Linked DNA regions of Homo sapiens: region 2 is linked to region 1. Evidence: fine-mapped expression QTL. A gene starts in region 1. The other region holds a variant in brackets. All regions are shown on one strand. Distances are from middle to middle.

Region 1 (10,167 bases):
GGTGGTGGAGTGACATGCAGGGACTGCATGAAGCACAATGGTGGGAGGCTCTAAGGTCAATAGGATATGAATTCAAGGTAAGTTCCAGGAAAGAGTTGACCAAGGCAGTCTATAGTCAAGGTGGAATGATGAGTATATACCAAAAAGAGACAGTGTGAGAATCTGAAGGTCAGAGATGACTGAGCCAGACCACATGGGCAAGTTGGAGTCCATGCTCGTGACAAACCCTTGGCTGAGCATGAGATGAGCAATAAGTGAGTGGTAGCTCCTTTCCAGCCTCACCTCAGCTGCAGAAACAAGAGGCTCTTCACGCTAGATTTGAATGTTGGTGCCTAAGAGTTGATCAGAAGGCAAGTAGTTGACAAGAACTAGAAAAATACAAAAGCCTCTGTGCTGAGTAATGCCTGAGCCCCCAGAGTCCCAGCAAAAACAGAAATTAGCTGAATTTCAGGAAGTCAAGATATCAGGCAACCAGGGGAGTCCACGTACAATTATGAGCGCAAGAAGGAACCTTGAATGTAAGCTTCAGATCTTAGAGAAGGTTCTTTTGGGATGAATACCAATTCCTCTTAATAATCTTGGCACCGGGATGGAACCAACTTTTAGCTCTTGTAGCAGTACACTCTGATGTGGAAGAAGAGCAGAAGGGCACATGTGGGAAAAGAAATATATTCTCCCAGCTTAACAATTCTGTCAAGGGCAGGTCCTACCGATGTGCATTTCCCCTGCAATTTCCTCATCTCTTTCATACAGACTAGAAAGGCACTCAGCAGGAAGCCCTGCTATAGCCTGCCTTGCTGGGCCTCTGGCTGGACAGCAACAATGAGAGTGAAGGGAAGGGTGCCTAGACACCAGGCGGGCAGGCTCTTCTGCACTGTAGCTGAATGCTATTCATGGGAATAGCACTGACTTCAAAGAAATCTCTTTGTGCAGGTTTAATGAGCCCCCCTGGGAAGCTCCTGATGTGAATGGGAATCACGACTTGATATAAAAGTGAAAGATTATGTGTCAGCAGGAATGATTTGATTCTTAATGCAGTGTTAATTTATTTGCTGTGATTTCACACATCTGCTTTGGCCACAATACCATATTACATTAATCCCTGAGATATTATTACACATAGGTATATTCTCTATATACGAGGTAGTCGGGGAATGGGGGAATTTGTATATGTAATTTTTTTAAAGGCTATATACTCTTTTATTCAAAGAACTAGCAGGCAGAAGACTTTAGATTTCCTTACCATTTGGATACATAATCTCTTGGGCCTAAGACATGATTTGGCATTTGGGTCCATGAGATGGCAAAATAATTTTGAAGATAGCAGATTCTGGAGAATCTTAGACCACAAAGCAAGCCACTATATTTAGGGCTACTTAAGATTGGTACATCGGACAGCTTTACTCTCTTTGGAAACATTACTTCATAAATTTTGTCTGAACAGCAAAATCAAGTGTTTTCCTAAACATTTGAACTGAGGCTTATACATAGGGAAGGACACATGAAAGAAAAAAAGAGAAAAACCACTTTGCAGCAAATAAAAATAGATTCCATCTGCCACTTAGGTTCTTTTGAGTCTCCCAAGACAGGTTGGGGTTGCCCCTTAAGAAGACAAGTTGATGGTTTCATTAGGAAACAGATGCACGTAGGCCACTGGGAGAGATAAAGCTCAGTTAATCCTAGCTATTTGTGAATGAAATGTAGGAGAGTTCAACACAGAGATCAATTCCAAATCGAATGCAGTCCCTCCCATGCCACACAAATTTCAGGAGGCTACAGATGCTGGTCCTTCCCAATCCAGGACTGAGCTCAGCTAGCTGGGGTTGCCTCTCTGATGCTGCAGCCCAAGCCTTACCTGCTCAGCTGCATTCCCCCGGTCAGTTCAGCGGGTGTCTGGACTGCAGTATTGAGAGAATAATGGAAGTGAGGGCAGGGGGCTGGTGGTTAGTAAGAAGGCTTTCTACTGAGGGGTCCAGGCTATCCTAAGTGTGTAGGAACTTTCACTTCGCAAAGGGAGCCCCTTTCTCCTTTCTGACTTGAATATTACTTGTGATTGTGGAGGACACCCAGGACCCACTTCTCCTCAGGAAAAGTGCAGTTCTGCTAGGCTGAGGGGAATAGAGAGCCAGAATAGCTGACCTTCACTTTCAACAAATGCTTGAGTTTAAAGACGCTATGAAAAGAACCATGACATATGAGCATGCTCTCTGATCTCTAGGAATTTACAGTCCAGTAGAATAGAGGTCAGTAGATTAATGTTCATTCTTACAACATATACAAAGCTCCTATGAGGTTTCATTTACAAAACATTTGAAGCTGCAAGGCTGAAAGGTTCACCTGGGAGTCTGTGGTTGAGAAGAGAATGAAATTTTGAGCACATATAAGGATAAGAACAAATTCAGACACCCCTATGTAGTAAATGGAATCATTGTTAGTAGCTCTACATTCTCTCCTGTATTATAACATTCAACAACACCCTTTGCTCCATGCCTTTGCAGTTTTTCCCACTAGATGTGGATAATATTTCCCTGCTCTGTTAATGGAAAATACTATTTGGTAAGACATAGATTTGCAGATCAACAATCTAGGTATTTTTTTCCTCTAAATGTCTGGAGGTGAGCATGTTCCCACTTTAATTCCCCTTTTCTTCTTCAAATATCACATTTTTTTCATACTTTTAAATAATTTTGATCTTCTCTAGGATTCTGAATACCACATTCTTCATAGCTTTTCCTTTGCTACCCATATGATTTTAGGCAAGCTAGCTAAGCTTTGGGTCAGTTTTAACACTATGAAACAAATGGATGATAGATTTCCTCATCCCTAGGATTCACTCCTGCCCTAATAGTCATGGAACTAAAAGTTCTCAGGTTTTTATTGTTATTGGAGCTGTGGATGAGAACCCGTTAATAACACAGCTACCTCAATCTTGTTTCCATAGATTTCAATTTAGCAGAATTGGGATGGGATCGCAGCATCTGTCTTTTTAATGAAGATCCCCAGACAGTCTGTTGTGCAGCAAAGGTTATTCTATGAGCATTCTACGAATTTCATTGTTTCTCATCCAAAACTATTATTTTAATAAACAGAATGGCTTTTAAATAAGATGTAATGGAAAGAACTTCCCAGCTGCCTTAAACGGGGGTTTTCAATCAGAGGAGAGTTGAGATAATCAGAATCTATCAAGAAGATACAATGCCCTGAGGAAACTGAGAGATGCCCGGATCCACAGAGAACCATTTCACATTTAATGCACATTTGTTTATCGGAACAAATTATTAATTGAAAATGGAGTTGACTGGACTTGAAGGAGGAAGTACAATGTAGTAAGTGTGAAATTTATGAGTGGTTATTAAAAATAAAAATGGTTATTTCTGAAGTGTGGTGGTGAGACTAAGATTTTTATTTAAAAGTAGCCTACACAGTCCAACTGATGAGTTTTAAAATATAGGTTCTATATATATGCGTCTTTGTGCACTTATACACCTATGTTGTTTGCACATGTTTATATGTGGAATCTATATGGCATATTAAAGTATATTTCAAAATAATACACAAATGATCAACAATTCAGTCATAGCGTAGTGTCTGATAATTGCATTTCCTGCAGTCTATGTTCTTAGGATCATAATCTTTAACGGTTTGGGAAAGCCAACACATAAAATGACAATTTTGAGTTGTGCAGCCTATTTTGGGACATTTAAAGATGTTAAACAGATTTCCCTTTGGACTTACTCATTCACTTCTTGGCTAAGATCATTTACTATAAGAGAGTCTGCCAGACAAGGAGGGAATACAGGGACCTAGGGCCAAGGGGAGTAGAAGGGAAACCTGGGAAAACACACCAAGTTTGGGTTAGGGGATCACCATTCCATCTGGAAGCTAACTGGATAATAGGGTATCCATTCGTCCTCACCCTTGAACCTCCTCCGTGTTCAGAAGGAAACTAATAAATCACTTTATCCCTCTCTCCATTGTTAGTGGACTCTTTTACTCCTTTGCAGTGAAAGGCTGCTTTCTTGGGGTAAAGATGTCAACCCTAGCAGAGGATTTCAGTGATCTTTCTGGCGGCGAAGCTTAGACCGTGTGTTTAAACATCATTTTATGAAGAAGTACACTGTGAGTGGACTGAGGGCCATGCCCTGCACCTTTCTTCCCAGTCCCTGGGCCACCAACTACCCAACCACCTCGGTTGTTCCAGAAGTGAAGGCTCACCATGGTGTGGCTTATGTAATATACATATGTGCTATGATCCCTGTGGATAATTAAGGCTAGGTCCCTTTATATGCCTAGGACAAGTTAGCAACCCTTTCAAGGTCGTGTTTTCGAAAGGATGACAATTACTTTCCCATTGGACTTTTGGTACATTTACATCAAACACTGCCAGCTACAGTGTCTCCTAATACTGACCCCTGGGCTAATTAGCAGCTTAGTGAGGTTGTTTCAATTTTTCAGCAACCAATTAAGTAGTTGCTCTAGACAGAACTGACAACACAATGTGAATTTTAAAAACCGGGATCTGCTGGTTGAGGGGAGAAAGCCAAACCCAGTAAGGCAAGTGGGGGCAGGGCGAGGCTGTGAGTGGCTCTGTTTCTGCTAGCAGAATACTGGGTCTTAAATTCAGATTAAATCACAGTTTACCTGACGAGTACCCCGCCCCCCCTTCCCATTAGTAAAATAATAGCAATAATTTAAAAAGAGCCGAGCATCTGGGTTAGTGCAAGGGGAAGCGAGACCTTTAACCATGGCCACCCCACTTGCTCTTTGCGAGGCACCTGTTAGATGCGCTCGTGTGCCCTGACCCCTATACCGAGAGACAGCTCCACACCTGCATTTACCCTTCAGCCTAAATGGATTCCCATCAAGCCTTTCTCACTTCACTGTCGGATCCACAGAGGCACCGAACCGCAGCCACTCTGCAGAAGCACTCTCAGCCACTCTGTCCCCTAAGGGAGATTTAAAAGTGGTCGCCCCCACTCGCCCTCCCTCAGCCAGCATCTCCATCTAGGGAAGGAATTTCAGTTGTCTCCAGGAGGCAAAAAGCGAAAAGGTGAGGGATGCACCGAGAGAAGAGAAGATACCTACTCACTCCCCTCCCCACTCACCCACGCGTCCGCTCCCGGCTCCCCCTCCGCCTGCTTGGGTCTGGCGGTCAGGTGAGGTTACCTGGGCTCCCCGAGAAGCCCCGAGGGGCGCTGCAGTCCTTCCTTTCGAAATCGCCCCGCTCCCCGCCGGGCCTCCAGGACTCTTGCCCCTCTCCCCCCGCGCGCGTCCCCGGCCCCTCGGGCTCCGACGCGCAGCGACAGCCGCACGGCGCGCTCTGCTCCCCTCCGCCGACCTGGCGTGACGCAGGCGGAGACTACTTAAGGGCGGATTAGAGGCGGCGGCCGCGGATCCCCGAGCCCAGCATTCGGCTCCGCGCGCTCGGCCCTGGCCTCGCAGGCTGCCGCGCCGGAGCGCCAGGTGCCCGCTGAAGTAGCAGGAACAGAGCCGGTGTTCGGACCCTCCCCTGGCCCCCAACCTGCGGCGGAGAGCGGCGCTGAGACTTCTCCTGGGCGGGCGAGCGCTGGAGGACCTGCAGGCTGCCACCCCGCCCCGCCCCTCGTCCCGGCGTCCGCGGGATCCAGACCCGAACCCCGGACGGCGCCCGAGGTTCGTGCCCTCTCTCTAGACCGCGCCAACTGCCCCATCGGTCGGGACGCGCTTGGATTTCTTTCCCCATTTCTTCTCTTTTAAGTACAATAAAAGGAAAGGGGGATTCGAGGATTTTTTAAAAAATTGCTTCTTTAATTGGGAGGCAATTCACTCCCATTCTGGAAGTGCGGCCCGGGGAGGGGCCAGGAGCGGGAACGTGCCCGGTGCTGCCCAGTCTTTGTCTGCTGCCTCCGGATGCACAGCGATGGGGGAATGGACCATCTTGGAGAGGCTGCTAGAAGCCGCGGTGCAGCAGCACTCCACTATGATCGGGAGGTAAGGGCGCCAAGCCGGCGGTCAGGGGGCCCCGTCGGGCGGCCCCCGGGAGTCCCTTCTCACACCTGGACTGAGTCTCCCGCTCCAATCCCCAGTCCGTCCTCTGCCTCCTCCCCATCGTCCTAGGTCAAGGCTCCGGTGTTCCCGGCGATGAGGGATTACCCGACGCCCCGCGATGCCCCCCTCCTCTAGCTACTCCTAACCAGCTGCCCATCCCTTCCCCATCAAGCACCACTGGGGCTTCACTCTTCCCACATCAGAAAAGGAGCCGCTGGCTCAGTCTTGGTCCCTCCACTCTCCAGAGTCAGAGCCAATCTCCATTTGGTTCCCTAAATAGAATCTACAAAGAAGGCAGGATTGCATTTGGACAGAAAAGGGCAAATGGGGAGATGGATTTGCTCTTCAGAGCAGATGCCTCTTTTCTCAACAAATAATTACTAAACCAAACTTATTTGGCGGTGTAAACTTACCGAGCCTACACACCCAATTGCCATTTTTGGGTCTGTATCTATATCTATGTCTCTATCTACCTAGCTTTATATATATATGAGTTCAATATATATGAATATATATTCATAGCCATCTGCTTATATAAAGCATTAAATTTAATATTCATGTTGAGAATAAACTAAATATACACATGGAGTAGTTATTTACACACCCTGTGTGTAGACCTCGAAGCATGCACCATCTGTAAAGGTATTCTGTGTGCATTTGCCATATCCAGAGTGAAGGTGTGTTTTGTGTTTCTATACATTCTATATAGAGAGATGAAATCTATCTGTTGCAAGTAGACTATGTCCAGTGTATGGAGATGTGTGTACCTGGGATCTCTATAATATGAAATATTCCCAGCCTACCAGCACTCAGCAGAAAAGGAAGAGACAAAAAGCTTTCCCAGATTCCTAGTTCAGTACCAGCCCGGGATGGACAGCTCCCCAGTCAAAAGACTGGTAAACACCAGCAAAGGGAAGGGAGGAGCAGGGGTTTCCTGTCAGTGACGCAGCCCGTGAGAACCTCTCTCCCTCCCTCTTCCTCCGTTCAGGATCCTGTTGACTGTGGTGGTGATCTTCCGGATCCTCATTGTGGCCATTGTGGGGGAGACGGTGTACGATGATGAGCAGACCATGTTTGTGTGCAACACCCTGCAGCCCGGCTGTAACCAGGCCTGCTATGACCGCGCCTTCCCCATCTCCCACATACGTTACTGGGTCTTCCAGATCATAATGGTGTGTACCCCCAGTCTTTGCTTCATCACCTACTCTGTGCACCAGTCCGCCAAGCAGCGAGAACGCCGCTACTCTACAGTCTTCCTAGCCCTGGACAGAGACCCCCCTGAGTCCATAGGAGGTCCTGGAGGAACTGGGGGTGGGGGCAGTGGTGGGGGCAAACGAGAAGATAAGAAGTTGCAAAATGCTATTGTGAATGGGGTGCTGCAGAACACAGAGAACACCAGTAAGGAGACAGAGCCAGATTGTTTAGAGGTTAAGGAGCTGACTCCACACCCATCAGGTCTACGCACTGCATCAAAATCCAAGCTCAGAAGGCAGGAAGGCATCTCCCGCTTCTACATTATCCAAGTGGTGTTCCGAAATGCCCTGGAAATTGGGTTCCTGGTTGGCCAATATTTTCTCTATGGCTTTAGTGTCCCAGGGTTGTATGAGTGTAACCGCTACCCCTGCATCAAGGAGGTGGAATGTTATGTGTCCCGGCCAACTGAGAAGACTGTCTTTCTAGTGTTCATGTTTGCTGTAAGTGGCATCTGTGTTGTGCTCAACCTGGCTGAACTCAACCACCTGGGATGGCGCAAGATCAAGCTGGCTGTGCGAGGGGCTCAGGCCAAGAGAAAGTCAATCTATGAGATTCGTAACAAGGACCTGCCAAGGGTCAGTGTTCCCAATTTTGGCAGGACTCAGTCCAGTGACTCTGCCTATGTGTGAGAGGGCAGGTTTCATGAAGGTCTGGGGGATGGCAAGGAGCCCCAAGGCAGATGACTGCTCAGACGTGGCTGTATCCACCCTCATTTATGTGACCCTCACCATTAAGATGTAGGATAAGACTGGATAAAAGAAGATTTTGCACCAATGGGAAAGGAGGAAAAGTGGACCCATTTTCACATATCACCTAATTGGTTCTACAGAGACGATTGGGTAGAGTGATGAAATGGATCAATTAGACTTCTTTGGTCCCTTTCTGTTTATGGCCTAGCCTGATCCTGATAACACTGAACTTGCACAGCTACCAAGTAGGACTTAGCCCTGCTGAGCTCTTTATTCTGGTGAATGGTGTGAGTTGAGTACTTCATTGATATAAAATTTGTGACCTATCTCAACCCATCCCTTTATCCTGAGCCATGGGACAAACATCCTTGAGGCACTCTTCATGTATCTCCCCCACCAGCATGCCCCTTTCCCTCAATCCAAAATAGCATGCCAGCTTTTTTTTTTTTTTTTTTTTTTTTTCCAGAATCTGGCCTTACATTAGACCTAATATGTTTTATTTGCAAACTTAGAGGGAATTACATGGGGTGCTTATTGGAGAACGGCCATGGCAGAGGTTTTCATTAGAGCCCCATCTGACTGGCCCTTAGTCGTGATGAAAACCTTAGGAATGTCTCAATATTTCCAGTTTTCTAACTCAAACTGCACTGGTGCTGTTTACTAGGGATGGGGGATGGGTGGGAGGGAGGGAATTGCAATATGCAACTACAACACTTTTGTGAGATTGTTGTTGCACAGTTAGGCACACGGTTACGAGCTTCAGGATATTTCTGCCTTCCAGCTTGTGGACTTTGGTTAACATTAAAAAGATTTTTTTTGGCTAATATCAAGAGTGTCTAGCTGAGCCACAGCATTTGTAACTGGTGTATCTCACTCATTTTCTTACATAGTTTTGTTGTGCAACACAGCTGCACGGTCATTTTGCCATGATTTGAATTTACCTGTGTGCTTACACCAGAGACCTTAATCATCCCATGTCAATCCTGATTTATTATTTTTTCAGTTACTCTTTGAAACACACACACATATACAGACACACATACAAAATTACTGGCTTAAAAGACCTGCAACTAAACACTATTGGCTAACGTGTGTTTACGGTGACTTATTTGAGACATATACCAAAGGTTCAAAAACCTATTGCATTGGACTGTCAATATGTTTTCTTCTTTTTGCTCTTATTTATTTAAGTGCCATACTGTACCTTTCATATCCACTGTGTATTTAGTTAAAATATTGGCCAAGAGAAACATCTGGGTAATGTGCTTTTATGAAGCCCTTTGTTCCCTTTGAATTATCATTATCATTTTTGATTTAGATATGGACATGGTGTAACACACAACTAAGGATTTGTTTAAAATAAAGTTCTTGCCTTTTTTTGTAAAATGGGAAGAGTCTGCACTTTTTGATGGGGGGTATATTTATTTAAATGCATGATCAAAAATGTTATAACAGAAAAACATTGGGGGTAGGAAGTAAGTCATGGTTGAATAGTATTTGAGGAATGACCAATAAAATACAATCAGCCACTAACAGATGAAGAGAGACTTTTCATGGATATTTTCTTCCAAATCAATGCTTTATGAATGTTCATAAGGGAGTGGTGAGATATTCAAATCGTATGATTTATTAGCTCCTTTCCATTTCAGCTCAAAACTTTCCTTACTTGTCTATTTCTTATAACACAAATGTCAATACTACATCATATTAGCCCATTCCAGGAGTGGAATTTTTTTTTCTTTCCACCACATTTTTTTTTCCTGCCATGGATTAATCATTACACTTGGCGAGCATGCTGTTCTTTCCATGATCTCTTCGGGGTCTGATGCTTAACACAATGCTAACCCGGTAGTCAAGCAGATCTCTCTAGACCAGCGCTGCCAGTAGAACTTTCTGTAATGATGAGGATTTCTTCTATTCATGCTGCCCAATGTGGCAACAACTAGCCACATGTGACTACTGAGCTCTTAAAACATGGCTAGTGCAAATCAAGAACAGAATTTCTAATTTTATTTAATTAATTTAAATAGCCAAGTACGGTTAGTTGCTACTCTATTACACAGCACAATTCTAGACTTTTAATCAATCATTTCTTAGTGGGTTCTTCAAAGGAGATTGATCCTTTACTTACATGTCATAAGACATTACTTTTTAGCCACAACATTTTACTCTCATTTTTGGTATTTTCTGCCTACAT
Region 2 (10,167 bases), 46 kb before region 1:
GATCTATATTTGATTTTTAAAAGAAATAAATAGATAACAGGTATGTTGATACTAACAGTGAATTCATTTAAGCAGCTTTCCAGGATATTATAATTTTGTTTGGCCCAACAGTCTACATCTGTCACATGTGTTATGCTATAGTGTGTGACAAAAATTAGTTTTCCAAAGGAGAATATTCTGGAAATAACTTCACAGTATCAAAGAAAATTAAATGATCTTCTCTGTAGTTTTGTGTGGGCATATCAAGATGAACTTAATTCTCTGAACAATGGTAGTTTTCAACTTAACTAGAAACCAAATTCCTAACCAATTTGGCTAAAAGAAATTTTATTACATCTAAAAAAATTTGGAACAGAGTTAGATTATAGACCAAATATGAAGACAGTTTTAAAAATAACAGTGCTGGTGAAAAAGAGCCTTAATACTCACAGATGCAATGTCTTTCTTAAAGTATATGGACGTTATTACGTAGACATCTCCCCTGGGCAAATGAGACAAAAGTATGCTTGACTTTCAGCAAGAGGATGTTACATTAGATTGTTTTCTTTCTTTCTTTAATAGATAAAATTAATATATGCTTCTGGAAAAATATTCAAATAATACCTAAGTAAAAAATGGAAACTGTAATAATTCCTTCCTCCCTTAATCTTCAGTACTCTTCCCATGGTTAAGAGTTTTGGTTTGTTTGGTTAGATTTTTTTTGAAATAGGCTTCAGTAGTCAAAGATTTATGTAAACAGTAGAACTTGAAATCATTCACTCCCTAAAGACTTTGAAAACCAATCATGGCAAATGACTTAGGAAAAGTGGGGAAGAGCTTTCTCTTGGGTCTGTTCCAGCTTTCAATTCGTAAAGAATAAGATGTGGCTACACTTTAAAATATACACAGAAACACACACATTTCACATACTTTTCATCTGAAAGGACCAGTTCAGTGCACCTTCAGCAGTGTGCTTATTTCTGACTTTACTTGGAACCCGGAAGTTGTCTTCTTGGAAGTACAGCATGTGGTACACAGTGAGCATTCAGTGAGTATCTGTTGAACGAACTGTAATTATTTTAAGAGGGAACAACATATTTTTGTCTTCCTCATAAACATGATTCAGGCAGAAAATAATGCAAAAGCTTACAAACATAATCTATTCATCAACTAGCCCTCATAGACTCAGCTCAAAATCCATAAACTATGAAGTCTTGCCCAAGGACCCTCATGAGAAGGGCTCGCTCCCTTTTTCCAGCCCCTCAGGCTTTGTTTAATACCCTTTCGTGCTGCTTAGCACAGATCTTTGTGGTGGCTTGCTGGGTTTAGGTACTATCTAATAGAATGAAAACATTCTCTTGGTGTGCATACACCATCTCATGCACTCTAATATTTCCCACTGTTCCTGCCACAATGTCTTGCATAGAGAAGGCATTCAATAAATATTGATTGAATGAAGAAATTGAATAAACCACATCTTGATTTCAAGGGAACACCAATTTAGCCACCGAATTGGCTTTTTCCTTTTGTTCATATCTACATTTGTATGATAAGCATCACTATTTTGATTATATTTAGTTAGAAAGTATGATGTTTCAAATCAAAGAGTTTATTCATCTGTAATATTTTGCTAAGTTGTTTGCAAAATGAGACACTTGGGACACATTTGAATTTCTACGGTGACAGCAAGCCTTGAATCTCCCAAAGAAATTATTTGAAACCCTTTGTTCAAAATCAGTCGCTGAGATCTGAATGTCTTCTTGGTTAATGCTGAGAATTTAAATAGCGTTCAGGGAGACCAGGAGGGTAAAAGATACTTCATTGGAAATGACACATGCTCTAAGAATAGAGCATTATATTTTCCTATCATGCCACATTTCTTTGTAAAGGTATATTCATTTCACACTTTCAGTGTGGTGATTATGAGATGTTATCTGGACCATTTACATTCACAAATATTTGAGAAAACAAAGAACATCTGTTCATTCTTGGCTGCTGCCTGATACCAGCCTTAAGGTTTTTAAACCCTGTTTATGTGATTGTGACTGAATCAGATGATTTGGAAAGATGTACTCAATCTATCCTTTTGACATTGCAATGAAATAAATGTAGGAAACAGAAACAATAAACCTTTCATTCATGACTGATTCTCTCAGATACACACAAACATATTCCAGGTGAGAAAGTAGGCAAATTTAACATTTAACCTTTCACATTTAGTCAAAATAAGAGTTAGTTTCCAGATAGATCAAGGAAAACTCTGACTACATAAAGATGTAAATTATGGAATAATATTTTAGGGTTTGATATTTAGGCCTGAGGTGTGCACACTTTTAGAAGGACCCAGAACACTGGAGCTGTTCTAATACATAAGGCTTTCTGCCTCATGGGATCACTTTTGCCTTTTCTCTTATCATTTTTGGGGCCCACATCCCTGAGTTGGACAAAATAAACTCAGTATAAAGTTTTGCACTGCCAGGTATGAAAGCAAAGCCTGAGCCCCTTGTAACTGCATTTGTCTGTGATTCTGATTTAGCATTTTCAGTTTTCTATTCAGAAAGAAATGAGAGGGAAGAGGTGTTGTAGGCCACTCCCCCATCACCCTCTTTCTACCCTCATCCCTCTCTCCTCCGCCTCGCCCACTACCTTGAGTCAGCAGCTTAGTGATGCGATCCTTGGGTGGACACCAGAAATGGTCAATTATGCCAATCTAAGAGATCAGCTCAAATTAAAGCTTCAGGGCTCTCCCTCTGAAACTTCAAGAGAGGGGCTCCGGACTCCTTATCATCACTGAACAGGGAACACAGAAAGTAGATGGCTACATACATTGGTGAAGGAATGAGCCCAGTGTGAATCTTTTGTGAAAAATATAAGTAGTGTGCTGTAATATTAAATTCACTAGAATCTCTCACTGGAAAATTGCATGTTTAAAGAGAGTTTGCAAAAACATTAACTGAATAGAGAGCACTTTGCTTGTTCATCCTTAAAGAATGTTCTCACCTTAGGGTTACCCAACCATTGCAGGTATTTCTTTGATGATGTAGTATTTTACTCTGTTCTGTCCTTTGGGTCATGCTCAAGGTTGTTCTGATCACTTTTCAAGGCCCATATCATAGTTTAATGGCTGATTATTTTCTCTTCTCAGTCCTCAAAGGCTGGCTCTTCTCTCTGGAATATCATAAGCCATAGGCCTACTTATTTGGATGGGTGCCAGCATTCACGCACAAGTAACGGCTTAAGAAGGCTTTTCAGTTGTTTTTATTTTGTACGTACAAGTTCTGTAGGTACACAGTGCTAGCTTTAGATAAAGCCTTTGTTATTATTTTTAATTTATGAAATTAAATAAGAGGTGGTTAAGATGAACTGGTTATCTGTAGTCTAAATTAAGAACAATTTTGATAATAAAATAGCTGTAAAGATGTTTTTCTAAAAGAAGTGCTTTCAGACCCTCCACATGAAGACAATGCCTTCAGCAGTATATTCATATGGTTTAGTTTTATGTTTGTGGTAGACCAGTTTTTAAACTACAAGTTTGAAACAGTTCAACAGCTGACTTGGAAACCAGAACCCACCCTCTGAAATACATAAGTGGGATATATAAAGATGGTATAATCCCAAGGGCAGAGCCTGCTCTGAGTTTGACATTCTTTAGTTCCAGCTGTTGACTAGAGATAATTTACTTTATAATAGTAGGACCAAGAAATGCTTTTAATGCAAATTCTTTGCATTGCATGTCTCTCTTTGAAGAACAAGTGGACATTCTTGCAGACTACCAGAATAGGAGGCTGTTTGTCTTTTCTCAGCCCAGCGGCTATAAGTAGATATGGAAGCCAAGGCCTTATGAATTTTATGCCACATTTAGTTTTATTTTAGGGAGGTTACAATATAGAGCTTTACTGTTTTTTCCTAGTTTATCACAATAAACACATACTATATTAATAATGAGGGAAATATTGTTTTAAATTGCCAGTTGTACTTACCATGTTAAGAGGAAAATCAAAATGACATTATAGTTTACAGGTAATGGGTTTTTTTCATTAAGCAATATATGCTATTTATTTATTTATTTATGTTTGAGTCAAGGTCTTGCTTTGCCGCTCAGGCTGCAGTGCAGTGGTGTGATCACAGCTCACTGCAGCCTGGACATCCCAGGCTCAAGCAATCCTTCCACCTTAGCCTCTGGAGTAGCTAGGACCACAGGTGTGCACCACCATGCCCAGCTAATTATGTATTTTTGTAGAGATGGGGGTTTCGTCATGTTGCCCAGACTGGTCTTGAACTCCTGGATTCAAGCAATCCACTTGCCTCGGCCTCCAAAAGTGCTGGGATTACATGCATGAGCCACCACACCTGGCCTATGCTTTCACTGGGATGGAAAAAACTACAGATATATACGCAAGTCATGGCAGACTCTTAGCTACTTGTAAAATGGCCATCCCAATTGTAATTTCAAATGTTCTCCATTGTTCCTACAAATTCATTCTTATCTATCTATTCATTCATTCTTTGTTTTGTCCCACACAAGATTTATGCCAGCTTACAAAGATAGAGAGAAAAATGAAAACTAAATTAGAAGAAAAATAAAAATAAAAAATAGAGATGGGTGTGTAAAACAGATCAAAATGACCTATAATCGCTGTAACAATTGGGCCACATATGTGGTTCTCTAAAATTTTTCTTAGCCAACACCAAAAGTGAAACCTTAGCTGGTCACTAGATTCAGGGAACACAAATCAAAACAAACTAGTTCGTTGGTAGATGTGCTTCTGCCCTTGGTACCAGAGTCAGACAGGGAATTCTCCCAAGGAGGCTTATAAAGAAGATTGTGTCCTATGATGAACATCCATGAAAACATCCTTACAATGTCCTTACAATAGAGATGGTGACCTACTCTTACACAGCCCCTCAACATAGGCTGGTGACATCATATCAAAGAACAGTTGGGGCTGGGCACGGTGGCTCACACCTATAATCCCGCACTTTGGGAGGCCAAGGCAACTGGATCACCTGAGCTCAGGGGTTAGAGACCAGCCTGGGCAACATGGGGAAACCATGTCTCTATGTACAAAAAAATTAAAAACAAAACAAAACAAAGAGAACAGTTGGGTAAAAATGGATTCTACAGCTGGAAGTCTGCCCAGCTTCATCTAGAAACTGACCATGTTGACCATATAC[A/G]CATAGAAAGTGGCAGGATAGTGCCAGCCTCTAGGAAATTCTCAGGAAATGTCAACAATTAGTGTTACCATCACCAATATTGTGTGTCAGATGAGTGCTTGATCTTTGCTGGGGAAGAGATGGGCTCTACATGATGCAGGTGAGTGAAAGCAGCCTGCAGGAGGTTTTCTGAGCTCACAGTTCTTACTACTGATGCACGTCTCCCAGCCCTTCTGCTTGCAGGTCAGGCTTAGATCAGACATTGTCATGGTTGGGCTCTCCAGGAAAGATGGATTTGCTCCAGGTAATACTTGAAACACTGAAACTCCATAAATAAAGTCACTGCCAGTGTGCAGAGCAAGTCAAATCTGAGCTAAGAGTAGTAACTTCCAAGCAGAAACTCATGGGCGTGAGCATTTCATTCTTGACAGACAAACTCCTTTTAAGGAATTTAAAAGGCTATCTAGAAATCCTTTCTGATTCTTTCCCGCTGACGTCACCAGGATAGAGGAGACTGAAAATGTGGTCTTTAGTCTGAGTGCGGTGGCTCACGCCTTTAATCTCAACACTTTGGGAGGCCGAGGCGGGCAGATCACTTGAGGCCAGGAGCTCGAGACCAGCCTGGCCAACATGGTGAAACCCTGTCTCTACTAAAAATACAAAAATTAGCCAGGAATGGTGATGTGTGCCTGTATTCCCAGCTACTCAAGAGGCTGAGGCAGGAGAATAACTTGAAACTTGCAGTGAGCTGAGATTGCCCCACTGCACTCCAGCCTGGGGGACAGAGCAACGCTCTGTCTCAAAAAAAAAAAAAAAAAAAAATGTAGTCACCAGGATCCAGAGAAGCATCTTCCTTCTATGTTCCCTTCTATGTTCTCCCTCCTCCGTGCCCCTTCCTCCTTCCCCTGCCCTCCTTTTCTGAGTCTTATTAAATGGTTCATTACAGTTGGTCCTATCATGTTAGAAGACAGTGACGGCTGGGACCTGCCAAGAACAGAATCCATCTGGGGCCAAATACCCTCTGCCTGGGTTAATCCCCTTGGTGGTTGCATATAAAACACGGGGAAGTATGCTGTGAAGATTAGCCATGCCTCATATATTGGACTCTGAACACCAGGATGTGTGGGGGCCTGCAGCCCTCACCATCATGTCACTTTCTCCTTTCAATGAAAACTGAAACCCAGATCCAGCCAGAGGGCAGTGGGGGTGAACAAATGTGTAGGCAAAGAAAATAGGAATGTTTAGGAAGGCTAGATCCTCCCCCCGGTCTGATCTAAACCGAGGCTCTCCCTCCCCCGGCACACAGAATGCAGGAGGGACAGGAGGTGATGGGGAGGGCTCATGGGGAGGAATTAAGTGTGGCTCTGTCTGTTTCTGGCTTCTCTGTAAATACTGTGACACCTCCGAACGGAGGAACAGCTGAGATAAGTGACTGCTAATCCCCCAGTGCCGGGGAGGAGGCTGGGCCGCTCCCTTCCAGATCCCAGCAGATGGTGGATGAAACAGACTTCCCCCGAGGCAAGGGCAGTGGGAACTGTCCCACCTTCTGTTCCTTCAGTTTGCCCTGCACGTCTCCCTCATGGCCAGTCCACGCCGAAAAGGGCTTCACTGGCCCTCAAGAGCCCTGGGGACCCGCCCCAGCTCTGCCATCCCACTGGGATCTACAAGGTCAGCCAACCTGGACTCCAGCCAGCACTGGCAGCTTGGGCAGCATCCAGCAAAGCTCTGTGGGCTTCAGAGAGAACAGCCAAGCAGTGCGGCTAAGTTTTTCACTCTGCAGAGAAACATACCTAGGGGAGAACAGTGAGGGCTCATTTAAAATGCAGATTCAATCTTCCAGGGTGGAACCCAGGAATCTGAATTTCTATGAGGCAGTCTAGGTAATTTGGCTGGAGGCGGTTCTAGCATCACATTCTGAGAAATAGCAGACCAAGTATATGTGAAGGTATTTTTGGTGGTGGTTGGGAATAGGGCTTAAAATCAGGTGCCTGAGTTTGAATTGTCACTCCACCATTTGCTCACCTGTGTGACCTCAGACAAAAAAGGCTCAGTGGTTCCCTACCTCATAGGATATAAACTGGTCTTTCTCAAACTGCAGGAAGCACAATTTAGTCACAATTAGCAATAAAAAAAATAACACTCGGAGACTGCACAACAATGTGAATGCACTGAACACTTTTGAACTCTGTATTCCTAAATGGTTAAGATAGTAAATTTGATATATGCATATTTTACCATAATTAAAAAAAAATCTAGAATGTACCAAAGAGGAGATGTCATTTTTTTCTTCTTTGTTTTGTAATTTTTTTTGAGATGTCATTTTTATATGCTTAAAAAGCCAATCTCAATTTTCAAATTAAGTGGATCTGTAAAAAGTAGTTTAAATAAAACTCAGTCATGAAATCTTACTTTCCTGTTGGTTTACATTTTAAAATATATAAAATAGGGTTCAAAGTTTTTAAAATGTGGAAATCAAGGCCAGGCTTGGTGGCTCATGCCTGTAATCCCAGCACTTTGGGAAGCTGAGGCTGGCAGATCAGTTGAGCCCAGGAGCTTGAGACCAGCTTAGGCAACATAGTGAAACCCCGTCTCTTCAAAAAATACAAAAATTAGCGGGGTGTGTTGGCATGTGCCTGCAGTCCCAGCTGTTTGGGAGGCTGAGATGGGAGGATCAGCTAAGGTGGGAGAATCGGCTAAGGTGGGAGGATCACCTGAGCCTGGGAGGTTGAGGCTGCAGTGAGCCCTGATTATACCACCGCACCTGATTATACCTGGGTAACAGAGGGAGACCCTGTCTGAAGCAAACAAACAAATACATAAAAATAAAATAAATAAAATGTGGAAATTGAGTGGTAATACAAATAGTAAATATCAAACAATCATAAATTTTTAAGAAATAAGCATTCGTTCTTGCTACACACATAACACATATGAAAATACACTGTTTTGAGTGTTAGGCAATGAAATTGAGCGGAATAGGAAACACATTTTTCAAACATTTTAAGGGTGAATATTGTTTCACAAAACTGCTGTTGTGTCCTGCACTGTTCTACTGGCCTCCCACTAGAGCCAATGGTCCTGAGATGAGGGGGCTGGAAGTGGCCTCCTAGATCCCCGAAGCCTGTGCGAAGGACAAAGGTCAATAATCATGGTTTTCCATTCCTGAGAGTCTTTGCACCTATAGCAGTCATAGTGGGAGTCTCTCACCAGCCACTCCCATGCAGAAACTCTTTCTCTCACACAAATGTTCATAAACTTCAGTTCTGCTCTACTTTTAAAAACGAACAACACATCCTGGGGAAGGCTTTCTCGGCAACTCTTTCAGACCTCCATTCCCTTTTTGTGACTATCCTGCTGATACCTCTTCTTCCCTCCCAGTTTGTGCCATAGCTGTCTGACTTTTCTGTAATTGCCACGGAGGATGAGTCCTGCTCTGTTTTATTTATCACTGAATCCTTAACTAGCACAGTTCTTGTCCTGCAAAGATTTGCTGAATCAATGAAGAATGAAATCAACCTGATTCTTTAAAAGGCAGAGCTACTACTGCCTCCAAAAGTATCATTATTACACATACAATTTGCTTTGTATCTTCCATATTACTTACAGCATTTGTTTCTAACTATTACAATACACAATAACTTCTGCAACAAGTGTTATGGTATCACTTTTGAGAGGGAAAACTTGGGGCTTGGGAAGGTTAAGTGTCTTGCTCAAGACCAAACAGATAGTTAGTAAGTGATAAAGGCAGCATTTGAGCCCAGTTCTGTCTGGCTCTGACACCAGTCCCATTTCTCCTTTTCCTTGGTTTTTCTATATTTTCACGAGACAAGGCAGTTCTACTCTTGGCATCCTGTCAATAAACATTTTCACTGTAAAATGCCTGCTGTGCTGCACAGAGTAATCTCAGCCAGGTCTCTTACCCGACCCCACCACACAGCTGCCCATCGCGTTTCTTCTCCAGACCAACCCAAACATGGTTGGGGAGTTCAGAGGGGAGGGCCCAGCATTCCCCAGTCGGGACAAGTATCTAATCAGCAGGCCTCCTCAGCATATCAGCCCAAGACCACTCTAGAGAGAGATGCCAGTGCCCAGTTTTCTATTTTTAACTGGTGTGAACTGGAGGAAAAACACAAGCATTAAAAATCAAAGCTCCAGTCAAGAACTGAGAATGCAGGGCACCCCAGGGCAAACTAGTGATCTGTGTCCTTCTTACATCTCCCTCTTCCTTCTCCCTCTCCTCATTTCATGTCATTTTTCTTTTTCCTTCTCAAAAGTTCAAGATCCTGCAAAATCTGTTTTCCACAGAGGAGATGATATCTGTCATTTATGCCAATGCTTCTCACACTTTAATGTACATACCAAGCAAATGAGGATCTTGCTGAAAAGCGGATTGGGATGGCTCTTGAGATTGCATTTCTAGCTCATTTCCAGGTTATGACAATACTGCTTGTCCATGGGCTGCACTTTGAGTAGCAAGGATTGGTGTAGTCCTATAGTTTAAGTTGTTGCTATGTTCTCCATCAAAGTATTTGCCTTTGCAGTCTTGTCTCCACCTGGAGTGAGGGCCTCTGCCCCCAGTTTAAAGATGCTCATCTCCCCACCATCAAGTGGGCAAGCTACTTTTGGCATTTGTTCCTTTATTCACTTTGGCAGCAGGGGATCCTTTTCTGGCCTGAAGACCAGAGTCTGAATTTGAGCAAAACCCTGCAGCATGGATGAGGGCTACCCAATAACTGGGCTGGGGTAAACCTGGTCCCTTCTCCAGCAAGACTTGGCCAAGCTCTCACAGAAACCCTTTTCTGACTCTTCCCTGGCCAGACCCTGATCCATGCATGGGTTGGAACTCGGGTGGCCTTGGTTAATCTCAGCTTTCTGACCTAGATGAGCCCAGCACCAGCTCTCTGAGTAAAGCCATTCAGGCTGGCGGGGACTAGACCAGAAGGGTGCCCTGTCCTGGGTGCCCCTTTTGCAGCCACTCAGATGTGCTGCTGCGGTGTCCTTTGTGCTGGTGGCAGCCCTGGAAGATGAGAAGCC

Alleles and levels. Positions count from the first base shown, and alleles are read on the strand shown. Sizes are in standard deviations (SD) of each study's normalised expression.
For the expression in tibial artery of the gene that starts at base 5,304 in region 1, allele G in region 2 goes with a lower level than allele A (small effect, 0.34 SD a copy in GTEx).

The links.
Region 2: its variant is fine-mapped to the expression of GJD2-DT in tibial artery (GTEx, PIP above 0.99).

Annotation. Positions count from the first base shown.
Region 1 is chr15:34,750,221-34,760,387 of GRCh38, reverse strand. It overlaps GJD2-DT (GJD2 divergent transcript), which reads right to left and starts at 5,304. Exons shown (of 3, transcript NR_120329.1): 1 at 5,167-5,304. GJD2 (gap junction protein delta 2) reads left to right here and starts at 5,390. Exons shown (of 2, transcript NM_020660.3): 1 at 5,390-5,970; 2 at 7,016-9,356. The coding sequence starts at 5,900. The coding sequence ends at 7,910.
Region 2 is chr15:34,796,019-34,806,185 of GRCh38, reverse strand. All of the region lies in intron 2 of GJD2-DT (GJD2 divergent transcript), which reads right to left. It overlaps LOC107984776 (a long non-coding RNA gene), which reads right to left and starts at 1,109. Exons shown (of 3, transcript XR_001751477.1): 1 at 910-1,109; 2 at 430-481; 3 at 1-3. RefSeq lists an enhancer at 9,019-9,490. The variant A/G (reference allele first, on the strand shown) is at 5,155.